4 separate regions of the Homo sapiens genome follow, and regions 2, 3 and 4 are each linked to region 1. Evidence: fine-mapped expression QTL. A gene starts in region 1. Each other region holds a variant in brackets. All regions are shown on one strand. Distances are between the middles of the regions. Region 1 holds the start of FLT1 (fms related receptor tyrosine kinase 1). Region 2 overlaps FLT1 (fms related receptor tyrosine kinase 1). Region 3 has its middle 67 kb from the start of POMP. Region 4 has its middle 55 kb from the start of POMP.

Region 1 (5,153 bases):
ACAATTTCAGTATTTCCACTTAGTTATAGTAAATTGTAAATGTTAGCTGTTCAAGAACTCAAGAAAAATGAGGGCAAAGAAAAAGGTCTGTAGCTTTCATCCAGGTTGTGATACCTTAAAAGTAAGAAATGAGACTCAGAGCTGGAGAAAGAGGACTGGTATCCTTTATAGAGAAAGAGCAATAGAGAGGACTTGAAAGTATCTGAATTATTGGCATCTTTTTATTTCCCAGAATGTCTGGAAGAGGTAAATAAGCGCTTTAGAGGGGAAAGGCATTATCTTTTTGTAATACTGAGCCTCTGGTTATTTTACCTCTCAATGCATGTGCACACCAGGCATGCACACACACAGAATATTAATAGCTGATAAGTATTCAAAGATTACATAGTACCTGAAGGAAGGCAGACCCAGGTTCATAATGACGCAAGAGAACTCTGCAGTGGGGAACCGTGGCTTCTTACTAGACATTGCTTCCCGGATATGCAGCCTCTCAGTTGAGCATGAAAGCCCTGATGCGGTTTGTAAAGTAGGCGGTAGCTGATTGTTTTACTGTGAGATGCTTGTTAACCAGACAGAGAAACTATGAGTTTTCAAAAGCACCCATGATGCCGACTGAGCTAACATGAACTAACAGAGTGTTCTGTTAACTGTTAGGTAAAGAGGTTCTCAGCTTGCCAATGTTAGTCCTTTCTTCCCAAAAAAGTGCAAATAAAAAAAAAAAAGAAATTCAGAGTTGCAAAACTGCTGCCCCATTTAAGTAAATTATAATCTAAGAAAAATCACAAGAGGATCCCACTCACATTTCTGTAAAGTTTCCACTGATCTAAGATGCTTCCAATTACAAAGAAAACGATGCTTCACTAAAGTCAGCATGTTTTCAAAATAAAGATATAATTATGTGAAGCAGAAAATCTAATAAATCACGTACTTTTCCCTCCGTAATTTTAGATTCATGTAATTTAGCTAGATTTATCTTTACATAATAGTCGAGTGAGGTATTTAAATTCTCTAAGCAATTATATTTTAATACAAGTGACTTTTCAAAACAAAAAATGTATTTGTGAAATAGAAAATACAACATTTTATTTAATATAGTTATGTTAGCACCTTTCCCAACCTACAGTGAGTTCTCAGAAGTTACCACTTCGCCCTGTCTCCGGGTTTAGTAGTTTCTCCAATCTAATTGGAACTATTACTTGTTACTTGGAAACTGACGGTCTAGTTAGTCTTCCCACTGAGAAAGAATATTTAATTATTACTGCTTTTTGGGTTTAACAAGCTTTTTGTTGTTGTTGTTGTTGTACTACGCTCCATCCTATTGACTTTTCTTCCCGGGAATCATTGCAATGACTTATTTTATATTACTATATTTTATTTCATATTTTACCTTTTCTCCACGATGCTTAAAAGAAAGGCGCTCCGAAATCTGGCTCTCTGCGCCCAGGGGAACGAGGCACAAATCTCCGCCACTCAGCCCCACTGAGCAGAGACTGCGAGTCCGAACCCTCAAGTTCCTCGGGGCTTTGACCCCTCAATGGCGGCGGTCTAACTGCTGGTAAAACCCCCGGCCCCTGACTGTTCCACCGCCCGTCTCCCAAACGCCCAGCGAAGGCTGACTTAGGTGGCGGGCGGACCTCATCGATTCCTCAAACCACATCGTTTGGTCAAAATCGCCCGCCCTCTCTTCGCTCGGATTTTAAAGGCTAGGCTTGTAAGTCAGTAAGTTAACGGTATTTGGGCCCTGGGCTGCCCTTGTGGGTCAGGGTCACTGATGTCCGCGACACGGACTGGACCGCGCACCACGCCTGCTCCCGGCAGAGGCCCCACCCGGGTGGCTGAGCGCAGCGCACTGGGGCCCCGCGGTCCGAGAGCGGCGGGGAGGAGCGGGCGCTCGCCGAGCGTTCCCCGGGACAGTCCGGCTTGGGGACTCAAGCGGGTCATGGGATGCCGGCGCTGGCCCTCTCCTGAGATCCTCCTGCTCCCCCGCAGGCACGAGTCCCCTCCAAATCGGCTCCCCTCCTACACTCTCGTGACGCGAGGTCGCGGCCAGTGCCCAATATCACCAAAGTCCCGGCCTCAGCCCAGCCCCGGGCAGCCTGGCAGGCTTTCAGGAGCCTCTGCTCCCGGCTCCGGGGGACCCTGCGTACCTGCCCCAGGTCCTCTGGGAATGGGCTCTGGGTGCCAGGCAGGTCCCGGTGCGTGCTGCTCCTAGTGCCCAGGGCCTCGGCAGTGAGACCCCAACCCGACAGCTGGATAAGGGATCAGCGATCCTGTCGCAAACGGACAGCCCCAGCGCGGACCCGGTCTGAGCGCTGATGCTCGCGGGTCCAGGCCAGCCACTCCTCGAGGCGCTCCCTCGGAGAAAGGGCGCAGCGGCCCCAAGCGTGCCCGCTGCAACTAGTGTCCCAGGTTCTCGCCGTAGCCAGCTTCTCCGGGCTACAGCCTCGTCTCCCCGCGTGCACCCCGCCCTGGCCTCGGAGGCTCTGCCCTCCGGCCGCCCCATCGCAGCCCGCCTCAGGCCCCGGCCCCCAGCCGCGCCTCACCTGTGAGAAGCAGACAGCTGAGCAGCGCGCACAGCAGGACCCCGGTGTCCCAGTAGCTGACCATGGTGAGCGCGACGCGGCCTGCTCGCCCGGTGCCCGCGCTCCCCGCGGCCAACGACCCGGCCGCCAGAGTCCGTCCTCTCGTTCGCCGCCGCCGGCCCCGCGCCCTGAGCGCCCGTCTCGCGGCTCCAGCCAGGAGACAACCACTTCCCCGGGTAATCCTCGCCGCCAGGCGCCCGCTGGCCGCTGCACCCGAGCCCCGGAGCCCGCTCCGAGCCGCCGCCGCTGCCGGGGAGGAGCCGAGAGGAGTGTCCGCCTGGCGCGCTCCGAGCCTCCCGCGGACCTCGATGAAGAGCAGCCGAGGGCGGGGGCGATTTATAACCTTTCCCCAGCCCACTTCCTACCCCGGCACCTCCTTCTGGTGACGTCAAGGGGTCCCCCACCCCTCATCCGCCTCCCCACCTACCCTCTTCTTCCTCCCAGGCTCGCTTCCCTGCGGCTACGGAGAGGGGCGGGGGCCGACGAGGGCGGGTGGCCCGGGGCCGAGCGCGCGTGGGGAGGTGCTGGCGACGCGGGCCCGGGAGCGCGGCCCCGGCAGGTTCAGGGTCTTTGCTCCGCGCCCTCTTGCCCTTGCCCCTCCTCCTGCCCATCGCGCTCAGGAAATCCTTGCAGACTCCCTCCACCCGGCTTACTCAGCTCTGGGGGCCGCCCGAAACTGGGGAAGGGACAAGGCTGAAGCTCCGCCGCCTGGCCCTAGGGGCGGAAAGTCCGATCCAAGGGAAGCTGGCCGCGCCTCCGCGACGGTGTTCTTGGCACGGAGGACTGAGGCGCAGTCCGGCTGTCTCCCCTTGCCTGCTCTTCCCGCGCTGTCCCGCCGCTCCTGACCCCTTCAGACTGTCCCGAGAAGTCTAGGAAGGCACCGGAGACCCTCGGCACAAGGCACTGAACCTGGAGCGCCTGAGGGGAACTGACGCTTGCTTGGCACCTTTGGGAAGACTGCGAACCAGCTCAGGTCCCAGGGGAGCGTGTCCGTGTCTTTTTCGGCCGCATTGATGCACCCGCCCAAGTCATTTCCTCAGTCTTCTGCTTCCTAGAAGCAAAACAAGGAATAACATTATGATACCTTTAAAAAGCTGAGGCGTGAAACTGCTCCTGCAACTTGGAAGCGCAGGGCACTTGAACTTTATTCCCTAAATGCTCGAAAAAGAAATCTTTCTGGTGGCAGCTTGCTACTCAAGATGAGTGACTCTGACCACAACCGGCTGAAATTAACTTGAGGCCCTAGATCATTTGCTATGACACTAATTCCACGTTGTTCCTCAATTATGTCTCCATTACCTCAAAGGCTGAAGTCGTCCTGGCTGCACGGAGCAGCCCAGTCTTGTCTCTGTAAATACCGCAGATTTGAAAAATAGTCCTATTGGAACCCGTCAGAGGGATGTAATACAAGGGACTGTGATGGCTCTTGAACGGAGCCAGAGACTCTTCCTGAAGGACTGGACTACCTCCCCGCCTAGGAAGGTTGGGTAACCCAAAGTTGCCACATTTCTGGGCTGCACACCAAGGAGAGGCCCCGGCCACTCCACACAGGAAATGCACGTCTGGGCACCTGGAGCCGCAGGACCTGAGCCACTAACTGTCCCTGGATCCCTTCTGCTTCAGAGGCAAGGAAGACTGCCGGAGTCATTGCTTGCCTGCTGGCTTCACCAGCGCTTTCTGTTTTTCCAGTTCTCCTCACCACTCTTCCTGGCGCCTTTCTCTGCCTCCCGCACCCCTGCCTCCTCTAAAACCCACAGCATCATCCCTCAGAACAGCTGGAAGCGGACAGCTGATCCTTCTCCTTGCTGGTCCCCCAGCCCAGAACACAGCCTGGGACATACGTGCGGAGCCACAGTGTCTGTTGGTCTCACCTGAGAGCTGCTTGTCACTCCCACACCCTCTTTCAAGGAGAAGCTGTCAGCATTGTCCTTCTGCAGCATTCAACAGGGGCCAGGCATTGGGTTAGGGCTGAAAACACTGATGGAGAGCCATCATCTTTGCCTTCTAAAGGGCTTGGACTGTGATAAGAAGGTGGACACTTGAAGTGGCTGCAGGACCGGCATTCCAGTGCTGGAGGGGTGTTTAGTCCTCCATCAGCTCAGAGAAGTAAAGGCACATTTATTGGCAGGGAAAACCCAAGGAGGGCTTCTCAGGAGAGACACACATTTGACTCTGGGGGAAAGTGGTCCATAGTACCATGTACAAAGGTTTAATTTGCTAATACATTTTTTCAAATGCCATTTTGATATTTTTAACTCATAAAGAGACAACACTTTCCAAACCTGCTGCCAGCAATGAATCTACATTGTGTCTGTAAAGCCAGAACAGGTATTTGATGGACAGCTGAAACAATCTTTATAATCTAAGATGCTAATCAATGATATTAACATGTTGCTCAATTATTTAAGGTTAGTAGAGTCACAGTCGAATCTAAGATTTATATTAAAACTATGCTGCAGTAAGGGTGGGCTTCCACATTTCCCAACTACTCTTTTGAAAAGTTGCTTTTAATTAGAGTCAGCAATTTATTGACTATGACTTCTTTGTTAGTTGCATTAGCGTTCTCACAAA
Region 2 (5,153 bases), 29 kb before region 1:
AACCCTATTAGACTACAAATCTACCTTTTCAAAAGATGTGTTTACATAGGGTTACTCATCCTTAGAGAAAAATAAAATGAAATCCCAATAATCTGCAGATGCTTATTGGGGCTGAAATCCCCCAAACATATTCTAAAGTAAATATTCAACAATAATAAATACATGATAACCAAGTTAATATCTAGCGAGTAATCACAGCTGTATATTAGGAAATGGTTGGAGTTTTATTAATGCCAGAGACAATGCTCTGAGTCATCAGAGATAAGTTTTGTGCTCCTGAACTAAAATAAACCTGTCATGGAAGTGTTCGGTAACAATGGAAGCAGAAGATCAAATTTTCTCAGAAAGAGAGTTAATAAAATAATGAGAGAGAGACATAAAATATTAGACTCCTCGGAAAAGTTATGATTGTTTAATGGATTATATCACAGCTACCTTGGACTTTAATAAGGTGTGATTATGAGACCAATATCACCCTAACAGGAAACAAATAACAAAATAGATGTTACTGTTCATAGTAGTACAGTTACAGGCTCATAGTAACTGTTTCCTAAATATTTGCTGATTAAATTAATTAGCAAACAAGATTCAGAAGGCTCTTCTATGGTTACCATTATTGATTCCAATATCTTTTAGTATCAGTGCTATTTAAAAATAGTGGTCTCATAATATTATCATAACAATTTTTCCACCAAGCTCATATAATATTCGTAGTATATGTATGTATGTATATGTGTGTATTCCATAATAATCTATGAAATACAACGCATTTCACAATCCTTCCTTATCCAAAAACAATCTAAGTGATAGATAATTTCCTAATGTCCAACAAATTATGCAAGTGTTTTATGATATTGGAACTTGTAATTTTCTGCGAATGGTTGTGGACTATTACAGGAAGGCAGACATGATAAATACATGACCTAACGGCCACTGCTCCCCGACAATCCCACAAGAGACATCAATAATCAATCATGGCACTTTTTCCCACTAAGCCTGGAATTTATCCTCAATGTCAATTTTAACATAGTATTCCACAAAGCACCTGTTAATCCATTCATTTATTCATTTAGCAATTATTATGGATTTCCTAATATGTGCAAGGCACTGTACCAGGGAGGCACATTGCAGATAAAAGTAACCAGGACAGACATGGACCGTGCCATCACAGGGCTTAGATTAACAATGGATTTGACACTCAAAGTCATGATTGTTTGCCAGATCTGCTCTGTTGTATAGTTGAAATGGAACTAATTCTAAATAGCAGTGTCTCTCCTTTGTGATAGTAGGGGACTGAGTGGAGAGGCTTGCACTCCCTGGCTTCATAAAGCCATGATGTCTATTGAATAGTTTAGGAGTTAAAGGTGAAAATAGCTGAACACTATTTATTAGAAAAAAAGAGATGGTTTTCTTTTTATTCATTTAAGTGTTCAATTTGCAAGTCAGACTGATAAACCTATAGGAGAAAGTTTTATGAAAATATTAGAATGAATAAATTTTTCTCCCACTCCCCTATAGAGACAGGGGCAGTCTGTGACTCACTGCAGTGTTTTCCTTTCTCCACAGATGTCGGAAAGAACACAATATGCTACGTGGAATTAGAGAAAGAGAACAGATGGCTGAGTACATGGCTTTTTCCACCACTATCAAGCGTGTTGTCTTTCCCCCTCAGCTGCAAAATTACCTCTCTGAAAGTCTCTGCTCTTAATGCTGCACCTTCTCTACCCTTCCTCATTCCTGCCTACCATCCTTTCATCCCTGCTTTAGAAGTGGGCTGACTTCCCCAAGCAAAATTCCCCGGCCTACCTCCCACTCATATGTGGAAGTGAGCTGATTGCATCCCTTGACGGCAAACTGCTTGGATGGTTAGTCCCTTACAGTTATCTACCCCCTGGACAAGCACAAAATGTCAAAACAGAATTTGGAGGATCGGGGACATGAAAGTGGCTCAGTCAAAATCAGGCTGATAGCAGCTACAAAGAGGTTACTGTCAATAACAGGCAACTGTTCTGCTGTCTCCTAAGACTAATCCTGAATTTGGATATGTACATGTTATGCTCAGGGAAAAACACTGTCTAGTTGCCTTATTTCACAAATTAAAAAAAATCTCATGGCCAGGCACGGTAGCTCATGCCTGTAATCCCAACACTTTGGGAGGCCGAGGCAGGTGGATCACCTGAGGTCAGGAGTTCGAGACCAGCCTGACCAACATGGTGAAACCCAGTCTCTACTAAAAATACAAAAATTAGCCAGGAGTGGTGGCAGACGCCTGTAATCCTAGCTAC[G/T]CAGGAGGCTGAGGCAGGAGTAATCGCTTGCCCCTGGGAGGCAGAAGTTGCAGTGAGCTGCCATTGCACTCCAGCATGGGTGAGAGATCAAGACTCCATCTCAAAAAAACAAACAAACAACAACGAAAAAGAACTGCCTCACTAAAATGTTAGTTCTATTGTACTACCTCCAATGCAAAGACCCAGTTCCTGACCTCACCAGAAGGTAGACCCACAATGTATATTTAGCTATTGATGCTGATGGTTGGTTGTTTTCTTTTGTTTTTTTTAAACCTGATTCTGTGCCTGAAGTGCCTACTAATATTGCTTTGTGTTCTCTACAGCCTTGTTTGTGTGTGTGCGTTTTTTTCTTTAATCCCCTCAAGATTTGAAAATTGGAACTAAACAAGGAAGAAGAAAGTGACAGGCCATTTTTATTATTCTTTCTCAGGGTTCCAATTTTACTGTGAGTTTCTACTTCTTAAAAGATTTTGCATTTCTCCCCTTTGAATGTTACTTCATTTGTTCATTCTCTAAGGAAGGAAGAACAGTATCATAAAAATTATGAATGAATGAAAATGATTTTTTTACGAGTACCATAAAAAATGAATCAAACATGATTCATTTTTGCCCTTTGCCCTTTGCACTGTATCTTGGTCAGTGCCAGTTCTCATGTCATTATAGTAGTTCCTCAGTGAACATGAAATAATACAACATTGTCCATTGGAACCAGTTATATAACACTCGAGATAACAGCAACATTGCGTTTATTAATTTAGTAGAAACAACAGTATTTTACAGTTCCAACATATAAGAGAATGCAGCTGTGTTAAATGACAAAAATCATGTATTCTATTTTGGGCTTCTCAATAACTAAGAAATAGAACTAAAATCCTTTTATTCACTTATTCATCCAACTATGGGCCACATACTGTGCTAGGAGCTGTGGGTACAGAGGTGACCTATACAGACCAGTCTCTCTCTTTGTGGAGCACATAGTGACTAACTGGGCCTTGACAATTCTGGTTAAAATTGACATCCACGAAAGTGTCTACAACTAGGATGGAATCTCTTTCCTAACCCGTTTCTTTCATACTCACTAGGAAAGCAACCTTTCCAATGGATCAGGGTAGATTTATGACTCATTTGCAAAGCAAAAGCAAACAGAATGTAGAAAATGGAAGTCTTACCACTAATAAATATATAGATTGCAGATTCTGTTTCCTTCTTCTTTGAAGTAGGTACAGCTAGATATTTGCAGCTGTAGAAGCCAGTGTGGTTTGCTTGAGCTGTGTTCAAGGTTAAAGTACTGCAGAATTGTTTGCCATTTCTTCCACAGGCAGATTTAGTTATGCTCAGCCTTTCGCTTTCCTTACTCACCATTTCAGGCAAAGACCATTTATGGGCTGCTTCCCCCCTGCAATCACAGATAAGAAAACAAAACATATTTATGGCTGGGCCCTAGGCTCAGCACCAGTTCCTCAGCATTCATTTTATTAGGAAGCGGAGGTCCTCTCTTAAGTGTAGTCATCTTCCTCTTTACGGGAAAGCAACACATTCAGAAAAGCTGTAGAACAATACTCAGAATAAAGATGCAGAACTATTTGGGCATCCCTTCCCCCATTTCCCTGAGTGAGTAATGCTCTCCCTTCCCCATGAATCCCCTTTCATGGGAAGCTGGATGCCTATGGTTTGCACTTTGCAGATCACAGGAGATCACTGAGGTCCCTACCTTTTTACTCTGCCAGGGAATGATTTTGCCTTAGGCATGGCAACTAGATTATTCCCAAACCAACACAGCCACTTACCTGCATTGGAGATGCAGTGTCTGGCCTGCTTGCATGATGTGCTGGGTGCCTTTTAAACTCAGTTCAGGATCTTTTAATTTTGAACCTGAACTAGATCCTGAAAAACAAATTTTTAAAATGTATTATTTGTAAATTGTCTTCTTACCTTTTTTTAAGTTATCTTTCCATGAAGGTGAGTTTTTCATTTTTAATTTATTTACATCTTTAATTTACTTGTATCTTTAATTTATAAGCAAAAGATACACTAATACAAATTTCTCTTAATTCACAAATTTTTTCTAGCTCTACCCTTGCTCATAAATATTATATATCCTTTTATACCAAATGACCTAAATAACATCCAAAAGCCTATTTATGTAGAATGGTAATGGATTCATATAGGTTCAATGAAATTATATTAAAATATATAACTAGTTATAATATTCAAATATGCAATAACTTAGTAAAAACTCTCAAGAATAAATGTCAGTGTCATCCAAAATATATTTTCAATACTGAACTTTTTCCAGTGTGGGTCATCTAGTCCTATAGGCCTGTCTCATCTTTTTTTCTGAATAAAAAGTACAGAAATTTTCCTGGGCTCTGAATTTCATGCAATCATTAGTTGAGCAATGATATTTTTGGCCAATCATTTCCCTTTCTGAACCAGTTTCCTCATTTGGAAAACTAATTATAGAATCAAAATCAGTTTTAGAAGACATTTGGTTTGTCTTACGTAATCTATGAGTTCCCTCTACAATGGTACAGTCAAAAGGGAACTGTTCACACGCTTACGTGACATTCGACAAACATCTCGGAGGATTGTTGTGAGGCAATAAAGTGAGGTGGTGAAAGTGCTTTAAAATCTACACATCTCCATATGATGCAATAATGACATCCATTTTAGTGACTAGCTGTATCACCCTAGACAAGTCATCTCTCTTTCCAGATCTCAGTTATCTTATCTGTAAAAAAGAGATTGGACTAGACGACCTTGAAATCTCTGACCTTCCATTTCTCACAGTCCCAGCCTGATATAGCTTGGATGCTGACCCTCCAATTCTGATGGTGAATTGTAATCCTCAATGTTGGAGGTGGGGCC
Region 3 (5,153 bases), 97 kb after region 1:
TTAATAGGAAGAATTTCCCTAGTGGTAATTTGTTCTATGAATTTTTTTTTTTTTGATGGAATTTCCCTAGTGGTAATTACTTTGTTCTATGATTTTTTTTTTTTTTTTTTGATGGAATCGCATTCTGTCGCCAGGCTGGAGTGCAGTGGCACGACCTTGGCTCACTGCAACCTCCGCCTCCCAGGTTCAAGCGATTCTCTTGCCTCAGCCTCCCGAGTAGCTGGGATCACAGGTGCTGGACCACGCCCAGCTAATTTTTTTTTTTTCTTTTTTTTTTTTTTTTTGAGACAAAGTCTCGCTCTGTAGCCCAGGCTGGAGTGCAGGGGCGCAATCTCGGCTCACTGCAAGCTCCGCCTCCCGGGTTCACGCCATTCTCCTGCCTCAGCCTCTGGAGTAGCTGGGACTACAGGCGCCCACCACCATGCCCGGCTAATTTCTTCTAGTAGAGACGGGGTTTCACCATGTTGGCCAGGCTGGTCTCAGTCTCTTGACCTCATGATCTGCCCGCCTCAGCCTCCCAAAGTGCTGGGATTACAGGCTTGAGCCACCCCGCCCGGCCTTATGAATATTTATTAAACTCCTCCATAAGCCACGTGCCACTCTAGGTGAAAGAGACAGAAGTGAATAAGGCAAACGTCTAGCTTTTATATCCCTTTTCATAGGGAACACAACAATAAATAAGCAAAACCAACAGAAATAAGAGGGTGATAGTTTCATGAAGAAAACACAATAAGTTACTGGGACAGAGATTGTAAGGAGGTCAGGGGGCAACATTACGTACAATGATGGATCTGATGGATCTGATGAAATGATATTTGAGTTGGGACCAGAGTGACGAAAAGGATTCCAGGCAGAAGGGAGAACAGGGGCCAAAGCCCTGGGGTGGGAACAGCACTGAAATACTTATGGAACAGAAATAAGTTCAGTGGGGCGAGAGTCTGTGTGTGAAGACAGCAAGAGAGTAAGAAATGAAGTCAGAGTTAGGCAGGCCCCAAATCACTTACACTCTTAGGTCAATGGAAGGCAATGGGAAGCCACTGGAGGACTTCATTAAAATTTGATAAAATGCATTCTTAAGGATCAAACATAAAATCTAAACTTTCGGTAATCATTTATGGTTAAAAGTTAACGTTAGGTATATAAATCTTCTTTAATAAAACAATTCTGTGGGACAGATCTGCTACCAAGGCTCAGAGAAGTTGAGTGGCCTGACCACAGTCACACAGCTGATAGGTAGCAGGATTGGGACTAGAGCCTGGGGCTCCTGCGCCCCAGGTCAGTTACTAGGCATGAATAGAAACACCGCACTGCAACACTGAATGTTAGCCGACATGGCAGCTAAAATGCACACATTAGCATTACCAAATGAGTGAGCCGATTGAGCAAGTGAGTTCTCCTACCACTACCTCCCCTTAGCATTGGCTTTGAAGACGGTAACCGGGAAAACTCAGACTGGGTCGCCCCATGTTATTGCGCCAGGACTGGAGACTCTGAGAAGCTGGTTGCAACATTTGGCGTCTTCGCTTCGGATGCTCTATAAGCCTTTTGAGAGATGAGCCTGAGTTTGTGGCGGCAGGCTCCCTTTTGAAAGAGCCACCCAATCTGGCCTCCCCAGACATCTTCCTGGAGGAGGATTGAGCATTATTCCAAAAAAGAAGGGTGGCCTCGAGCTGGCCCATCAGGCCCTAGCAATACCCAGCTCCTCATCAGGATGGGTGCAATGTTTGTTTTGGACTTTAAGCTTCTCTTTCACCCTTCGCTCTTTGTTTCCAAGGCAAGGCCAGTCAAGCTGAGCCCTCTCAGCAGAGCCTTTTCCAGCAGCTGCAGAAGCCGCCTCACAACAGCCACTGGCTGGTGCTTCTTCCTCTCTGTGTGGGATGTTGCCTCTTACTCCTCTCGCAGTCTACCTGGCTCTCCTTGGCTTGCGCAGCCGTGGGCTGGGGAAGCATAGGGTACCCTCAGTGGTCAGTTTTATCTCTGAGTCCCCAGAATGCTGCTCTTGATTAGCTGGACCTTTCCCAGTCTGGGCTTTGCAGCTTGCACTTATATTTTCTCTGGACAGTCCAACTGTTCTTTCACAGAGTCCTTCAAACACATGGCTCTTTGAGATTTGAGTTTGCTTCTTATTTTTTCTTTAGAGATGGGGTTTTGTACTGTCACCCAGGCTGGAGTGCAGTGGCAGGGTCATAGCTCGCTGCAGCCTCCAACTCATGGATTCAAGCAATCCTCCCATTTCAGCCTCCTGAGTAGCTGGGACTATAGGCAGGTGCCATCTCACCCAGCTAATTTAAAAACTTTTTTTTTTTTTTTTTTTTTTTTTGTAGAGATGAGATCTTGCTTTGTTGCCCAGGCTGGTCTCAAACTCCTGGCCTCAAGCAATCTCCTGCCTCAGCCTCCCAAAGTACTGGGATTACAGGTGTGAGCCACTGCAGCCGGCTTCCAGACTTCTTAAATAAGGAGGTAAGTTGTGAGGTACCTGGAGTAGTGAAATGTATCAAGACAGAAAGTAGAATGGGGGTTGTTAGGGGCTGAGGGGAAGGGGGAATGGGGAGTTTTTGTTTAATGGGTATAGAATTTCAGTTTTGCAAAGTGAAGAAAAGTTCTGGAGATCCATTGCACAATAAGGTGAATATACTTAATGAACACTACAGAATTGGAAACTTAAAAAATAGTTAAACCAACCTGGCTGACACAGTGAAACCCCGTCTCTACTAAAAATACAAAAAAAAAAAAAAATAGCCGGGCACAGTGGCTCATGCCCATAATCCCAGCTACTCGGGAGGCTGAGGTGGGAGAATCACTTGAACCCAGGAGGCAGAGGTCGCAATGAGCCGAGATGACACTACTGCACTCCAGCCTGGGTGACAGGGTGAGACCCTATCTCAAAAAAAAAAAAAAAAAAAAGGTTAAGATGGCCAGTTTTCTGTTATGTGTTTTTTAAAACCATGGTTTTGAAAAAAAGCAGATAAAGAGTGGACCTGATCTCCCCATAGTTTGCTGCCCTCTTGTCTGCCCGCCTGCCCGCTTGAACACATGGAGCTCTCCTTCCCTGTGTGTAAGACTGATCTTTGGTAATGAGATGCCTTGACCTGCCACTTGATGTCATGGGATAACTGAGAGCCCACTACCTTGAAGTCTCCGTGAAGACACAGTCCACCGCCTCAAAACACTCCACTGATGCCTCCAACCCCACTGACCTCAGCAACCCTTCCTGTCAAAGTCACAGATGACTTCCACTTTGCCAAATGCAA[C/T]GGCCATTTTCTGGTCTTCCTCTCAGCTTCTCTCTTGGACACAATTGACTTCCTTCTTGAAATATACTCTTGTTTTGGTTTCAGGACCACCTCGATGTCCTGGTTTCTGCCTAACTTAATAAACATTTGGATCCCTTCACTGGTTCCACCTCTTCTCAAATGACTAACTGTTGGTGTAGCCCAGGGCTCTGTCCTTGGCCTGCTTCTCTTTTCCCTCAGCATTTTCTCTCTAGAGCATCTCAACTATCCCTGAGACTTACAGATAAGTCAACAAGATAATTCCCAGATCTGTGCTTTCAGCCTGGATCTTCCTACTAAGTTTTAAATTATGCCTCCAACTGCCTTCTTGACCTCTCCACTTGGATGTCTGTATCAACCCATTATGAATTTTCAATTCATTGGGGGTATAAACATGAAGTCGGTTCATGTTTTTCCATAACTGCCCTGATTATGCTAGTCTCAATACTCAAGAATCTTGGGATACTTCAGTCCAATTCCACAATGTCCAGATTATTATTACTATTATTATTTTGAGACGGAGTCTCGCTTAGCTGCCCAGGCTGGAGTGCAGTGGTGTGATCTCGACTCACTGCAACCACCATCTCCCAGGTTCAAGCAATTCTCCTATCTCAGCTTCCCAAGTAGCTGGGATTACAGGCACCCGCCATCATGCCCAGCTAATTTTTGTATTTTAGTAGAGATGGGGTTTCACCATGTTGGCCAGGCTGGTCTTGAACTCCTGACCTCAGGTGATCTGCCCGCCTCAGCCTCCCAACATGTTAGGATTACAGGCGTGAGCCACTGCGCCCGGCCGATGTTGAGATTACTAAAGTAGTCTCATTCTAGATTTTAAAATCTCATTACTATTTATACTTAAATATTATCTCAATGGTCAATTCTTTGTCTAGGACATCAAATTGTTAAATAGGTCTAAAACACCTTGAAATAACAGAAAGCAAGGAATCGATAAAAAAAATCTTAGGCCCATGCCAAAAGAATCCAGGAGCCAGCATGAAGTCTCCTTCTGTCTAAAGATGGAAATGTTTGAACAATAAAAATAACAACTGCAGTGGATTAAACACATTAAAATCCTTAAATGTATAAGTTCACAATGAAACTTCAAAAAACTCTCTCATTTGTCCTCTTTTAAGGATGACTAGGCAACCAACACATTATTTTGAAAACTTGTAAATAAAAAGAAAAAATAAATGTTTCCAGCATAAAATGAGCCTCAGGACAACCCAGTAGTTAAAGAGGGAAATTTATCTTTACAGAAGTATTTCAGCTAATAAAGAAAGAAGGATTAAATTGGAATATCACATTTTTTGGAACCTCTGGTGAAATCATTGTTCTTGGCAATAATCACTAATAATGGCTAAAAAGACAACTGTAGAAAAAAGCATAAGGGAAAAGCTTCACAATATTGGATTTAGCAAGGATTTCCTCAGTATGATACCAAAAGAACAGTCAACAAAAGGAAAAATAGACAAATGGGACTTTTAATCAAAATTAAAATTGATTAATTTTAATCAAAATTAAAAGCTTCTGTGTATCAAAAGACACAATCGAAAGAGTGAAAAAATAACCCACAGAATGGTAGAACATATTTGCAATTCATATAAGGGGTTATAAGGGGTTAGGATCCAGAATATATAAAGAATTCCAACAACTCAACAAAAACAAAAACAAAAACTCAATTAAAAAAATGGGCAAAGGACTCAAACAGACATTTATCTAAATATGATATACAAATGGCCAACAAGCATATGAAAGATGCTCAGCGTCACCGTCACTAATCATTAGGGAAATGCAAATCAAAACCACAATAAAATATAACCTCACACCTGTGAGGATGGCTAATCAAAAAACAAAAAAAGTACGCAATTAAACAAAAATAAAACA
Region 4 (5,153 bases), 110 kb after region 1:
TTCTTGATAGATGAGTACCTAAATGAAAGTACTCACCTATTATCAATAGGGCACATGTATTGAGCTAATGGTCTAATAGAAGAGATGGATTTTTGCTGCTATCCTCTCTCCTTTGTGATCAACACATGTATGTAGAGAAAGCTCTGAGGCTCTTTATTCTAAGCAAGTGTGGTGAACAGTAACACCTGTCACTTGGGCTTAGGGAGGCATCAAGAAACAGAAAATCAGACAGACATGATTTGCATAATGGTTCCAGAATTTAGGGTTTGATTTTGGGCAAGCTACTTAACCTCTCTGAGTCTCATCTAGAAAATAAGGACGAAGCTATGTTCCTCACTGGCTTCAGGTAAGAATCCCTAAAGTGCTGTGTTTAAATCGGGGCCCATGATAAATGGTCTTAGTATCTGTTGGGCTCACTCCACTTTCCCTTCTTTCCCTTTAGTCACCATATGCATTGTGGGAGCTAAAGGCAGCACTTCAGTTCTGATGCTTTGTGTGACCACAGGCCAGAACCCAAGAAAAAACAGAACATGATTATTGGTGGCTATAATCAAGAATGAAAGGATCCCTTATTCTAGAAGTTTGCAGTGTCAGATGGAGCTCACTGATTCAGACTGACAGCTACAACTGGGCAAACCAGCCCGAGACAAACAACAAATGTATTAATTAGTAAATGTAATGAATAAAGAAATGGTGCAAGAGTTTTTGGTGTGGTTGTGTGACGAATGACCCGTGCATGGCAGGTCCAGACAGGATGGGTTTTGGGGGTGGGGGGAGGAGAGAACCATCATCCTGGTCCAGTTTACTGGGAAAGGCTCTGTGAGAGAAGCGTGATTTTAGAATTATTTGAATATTGGTAGGAGGGGGCTTCTGGAGTGAAGCGGGTGTTCCAGGTAGAGGGTGTGGCCTGAGACACATTTCAAGGGACAGTCAGAGTAGAAGGAAGCAAACGCCCATCCACACATGATATTATTCAAAATCACTAGTGAAGGAGCAAATCACAGATGGGGTCTGTGATTTTCTGAAAAGTTGGCAAATTGAGTCTTTCAGAAATGCACAAATATGTTTCCTCTAACATGGGTATCAGTTCAGTTTAGGGCCCAGACTTAGAGTGAGGTGCAGGGGGCTTGGAGCCCTTCTGAAGGGGACCAGCAGTTGAGGCCTCCATGAGGAAAAGATAAAAGGATGGGGCTAGTTTACTGGGGACGGCACATGGTGTAGGAGAGACCTGGTGCCTTCTCATTTTCTTAATGATGGCTCTGGAAAACATGTAGTTGCTGCTTCTACTCCTGTGAATGGCAGAGTGGTAGAAAGGACTTCAGCTTCAGCAGAAGAATATAGAAGAGACAAGGAAAAATCAGTGTCTCATATGACATGCAACAAAAGCACAGTTTAATCAGAGGCCCACAAAATTACAATCCTAGGAGTTCTTTCCAGACAGGAGAAACCCGCTCTGTCTTCATGCCTCATTTGTTCATAATTCCTCAGTTTATGACATTCAATAAATGGACATTTACAAGATCCAAAGTCATAATACAGACTATAACCTTAGCATACTCAACACCCAAGGATTTGCCATGATATATTGTTCAGGTCCCATCAAGCTTAAAGTTTCAGGAAACCAGCTCCCTCCTCCTGGAATTTTCTACTGGATTTCCCATAGACTCTGCTGCAGTTCTGCTCTCTGTTCCGCTCAGACAGATCTTTGCCTTTCTGCAAACCAGCAATTGCCTTCCAAGGGGGCTCACACAAACTGCAACTGAGCTGCTGGAGAGATATTCCCCTGTCACAGAATGTGGAGGAGGGAGATTGGAGGTGGAGGGTTTCTGCAGCAGCTAGGAGCAAACATATTCACACTCATAATTTTTGGGGGTCAATTCTTAAAATAGATTATATAGATGTTATGGCAGAGACTGCTCTGTGTTCACCAAATCCTGTCTCTTCTTCCTCCCAGCATACAGTGAGTCGACATTTTTCAGTTTATCTTGCAGCCAGTTGGAGCTGTATGATGAATCCTGGGGAATTAGGAACGATGTGTGCTGCTTCCAAGCCTGGCCCTTAAAAAAACTCCTGCAAGATCCTCCATGTTCTCTCTCTTTCTTTCTTTGACTACTGGCCAGATCCAGAAGATCTAGTGAAGGACAATAAGCCCTTGGGGACAGCAGACCCGACCATCTGGGTCTGGTCAGCAGCTAAGGGAAAAAAGAGGACTATAAAGCCCTAGGCAACAGAAGAGCCTCTTGCTGGAAGGAGACTGAGTCCTGAGTACGTGCATGGAACATCCCTTCCCCCACCGATTCACATGGGACTACG[A/G]TAAGAGAAAAATAAACTTTGATTGTGTTGGGCCACTGAGATGTAGGAGGCTGTTTGTTACAGTACTTGGTCTACCCTGGCTAATGCACATGGAGATTAGAGAGTGCCTCTGGTCTGGGCTCTATACACCAGTCTGTGTTAAAATGGGTGCCTCAGGGGAAGGCCTGGCCAAGCAGCCTGAGCTATGAGGCCAGAAATGATTAATGGAAATAAATAGATGTTTAAAGAAATTAGGGGTAGCATCAGGTGAAAAAGTAAGGTAATACCTCAAAATCTATTCCATGCCAAGAGAATTCAATTTGTAAATAATATTATTTTCAACAAATGGTGCTAGGGCAACTGAATATCCACATGCAAAAGAATAAAGTTGGATCTTTCCCTTACACTGTACACAAAAGTTCCCCCAAATATATCACAGACCTAAATTTAAGGGCTAAAGCTACAAAACTCCTAGAAGAAAACAGGAGTAAGTCTTTGTGGACTTGGGTTAGGCAAAGCCTTCTTAGATATATAATGCCAAAAGCACAACAACAACAAAAATAAATTGGACTTCCATCAAAATTAAAAACCTTTGTGATTCAAAGGACACAATCAAGAAAGTGAAGACAAGCCACACAGTGGGAGAGAATAATTACAAATCATATATTTCATAAGCAACTTGAATCCAGAAGTGTTACAACTCAACAATAAAAAAGACAACTCGATTTAAAAATGAGCAAATAATTGGAATGAAAATTTCTCCGAAGAAGATATACAAATGGCCAATAAGCCCACGAAAAGATGCTCAACATTACTAGTCACTAAGAAAATACAAATAAAAGTCACAGTGAGATACCATCTCACACCCACTAGGATGCCTAAAATAAAGAAATCAGATAGCAAGTATTGGTGAGGGTGTAGAGAGATTGGAACTCTTGTACATTGCTGGTGGAAATGTAAAATGGTGCAGCCTCTTTGGAAAATATTTTGCAGTTCCTCAAATAGTAAACACAGAGTTAGCATATTACCCCCACAATTTCACTCCTCGGTAGGTGAATACTCAACATAAATGAAAACTTATGCCCACATAAAATCTTGTACACGAATACTCATAGCAGCATTTATTTATAATAGTCAAAAAGTGGAAACAATCCAAATATCCATCAACTGATGAAAGGATAAAAAAAGGTAGTATATCCAACCAAGGGAATATTATGCAGCAATAAGAAGGAATGAAGTATGTACTGACAAATGCTGCAACATGGATGAACCTTGAAAACATTATATTATGTCTAAGAAGTGGGTCAGAAAAAGCCATCTATTGTATGGTGCCATTTACATTAAATGTCCAGATAGACAAATCTCTGGAGACCAAAAGAAGACTAGTGGTTGCCTCATTCTTGGAGGGGAGAGGAGAGGGAAGACTAAGGGGAAATGGAGAGTGATGGCTAATGTGCACAGGGTTTCTTTTTTTTTTTTAATTATACTTTAAGTTTTAGGGTACATGTGCACAACATGCAGGTTTGTTACATATGTATACATGTGCCATGTTGGTTTGCTGCACCCATTAACTCTTCATTTAACATTAGGTATATCTCCTAACGCTATCCCTCCCCCACACCCCCACCACACAACAGGCCCTGGTGTGTGATGTTCCCCTTCCTGTGTCTGTGTGTTCTCATTGTTCAATTCCCACCTATGAGTGAGAACATGTGGTGTTTGGTTTTTTGTCCTTGCGATAGTTTGCTGAGAATGATGGTTTCCAGCTTCATCCATGTCCCTACAAAGGACATGAACTTATCATTTTTTATGGCTGCATAGTATTCCACGGTGCATATGTGACACATTCTCTTAATCCAATCTATCATTGTTGGACATTTGGGTTGGTTCCAAGTCTTTGTTATTGTGAATAGTGCCACAATAAACATACGTGTGCATGTGTCTTTATAGCAGCATGATTTATAATCCTTTGGGTATATATCCAGTAATGGGATGGCTGGGTCAAATGGTATTTCTATTTTTTTTTTTTTTTTGAGATGGAGTCTCGCTCTGTTGCCCAGGCTGCAGTGCAATGGCATGGTCTCGGCTCACTGCAACCTCCGCCTCCTGGGTTCAAGCAATTCTCCTGCCTCAGCCTCCTGAGTAGCTGGGATTACAGGCATGCACTACCACGCCTGGCAATTTTTGTATTTTTAGTAGAAACAGGGTTCCACCATGTTGGCCAGGCTGGTCTCAAACTCCTGACCTCAGGCGATCCGACTGCTTCAGCCTCCCAAAGTGCTGGGATTACAGGCGTGAGCAACTGCGCCCAGCCCCAGGGTTTCTTTTTAGGGTGTTGAGCACGTTCTAAAATTGATTGTGGTGTCAGCTGCACAACTTTGTGAATATACTAAAAATCATTGTACACTTTATATGAGTGAATTATATGGTCTGTGAATTATATATTAATAAAGCTGTTAACACTCTCTTCTGAATTATTTTCTATTTCATTACATAATGAAATATTTCCAACCACAGAATGTCATAATGCCCCAATACACAACAATTGTGCTGCAAATGAAGGGCCAATATTATGGTCCAGCACACATTGCTCAGGATAGCTGTCCTCAGAGGCCACCAAGCTGGACTGCCCACAGCACCCCAAGGCCCATGAAAACTTAAGTAAATCTATTCCTAAGAAACTTCTGAGGGTCTTTTGCAGTGATGTGCTAGTGAATGTTTAACAGCTGACTCTGGTGGGGGTGGAAAAACATGAGGCCACTAAGCATAGGGTTGAGGAAGAGATGGGTGGTAACATTCCACCTATAATATTTACACCATACAGATTTAACAGACATAAGTAACCTCAAAAGCATACCAAA

Evidence for each region. PIP is the estimated chance that this variant, and not a neighbour inherited with it, causes the effect.
Region 2: its variant is fine-mapped to the expression of FLT1 in whole blood (TOPMed, PIP above 0.99).
Region 3: its variant is fine-mapped to the expression of FLT1 in whole blood (TOPMed, PIP above 0.99).
Region 4: its variant is fine-mapped to the expression of FLT1 in whole blood (INTERVAL, PIP above 0.99).

Annotation. Positions count from the first base shown.
Region 1 is chr13:28,492,237-28,497,389 of GRCh38, forward strand. FLT1 (fms related receptor tyrosine kinase 1) reads right to left here and starts at 2,892. Exons shown (of 30, transcript NM_002019.4): 1 at 2,544-2,892. The coding sequence starts at 2,607. RefSeq lists silencers at 2,378-2,427, 2,508-2,627, 2,748-2,797.
Region 2 is chr13:28,463,449-28,468,601 of GRCh38, forward strand. FLT1 (fms related receptor tyrosine kinase 1) reads right to left here. Exons shown (of 30, transcript NM_002019.4): 2 at 4,073-4,169; 3 at 3,455-3,681. Among named protein-coding and RNA genes, the nearest start is that of FLT1, 29 kb to the right of the region's middle. RefSeq lists a silencer at 3,819-4,050. The variant G/T (reference allele first, on the strand shown) is at 2,286.
Region 3 is chr13:28,589,191-28,594,343 of GRCh38, forward strand. No RefSeq gene overlaps it. Among named protein-coding and RNA genes, the nearest start is that of POMP, 67 kb to the right of the region's middle. The variant C/T (reference allele first, on the strand shown) is at 3,252.
Region 4 is chr13:28,601,251-28,606,403 of GRCh38, forward strand. No RefSeq gene overlaps it. Among named protein-coding and RNA genes, the nearest start is that of POMP, 55 kb to the right of the region's middle. The variant A/G (reference allele first, on the strand shown) is at 2,314.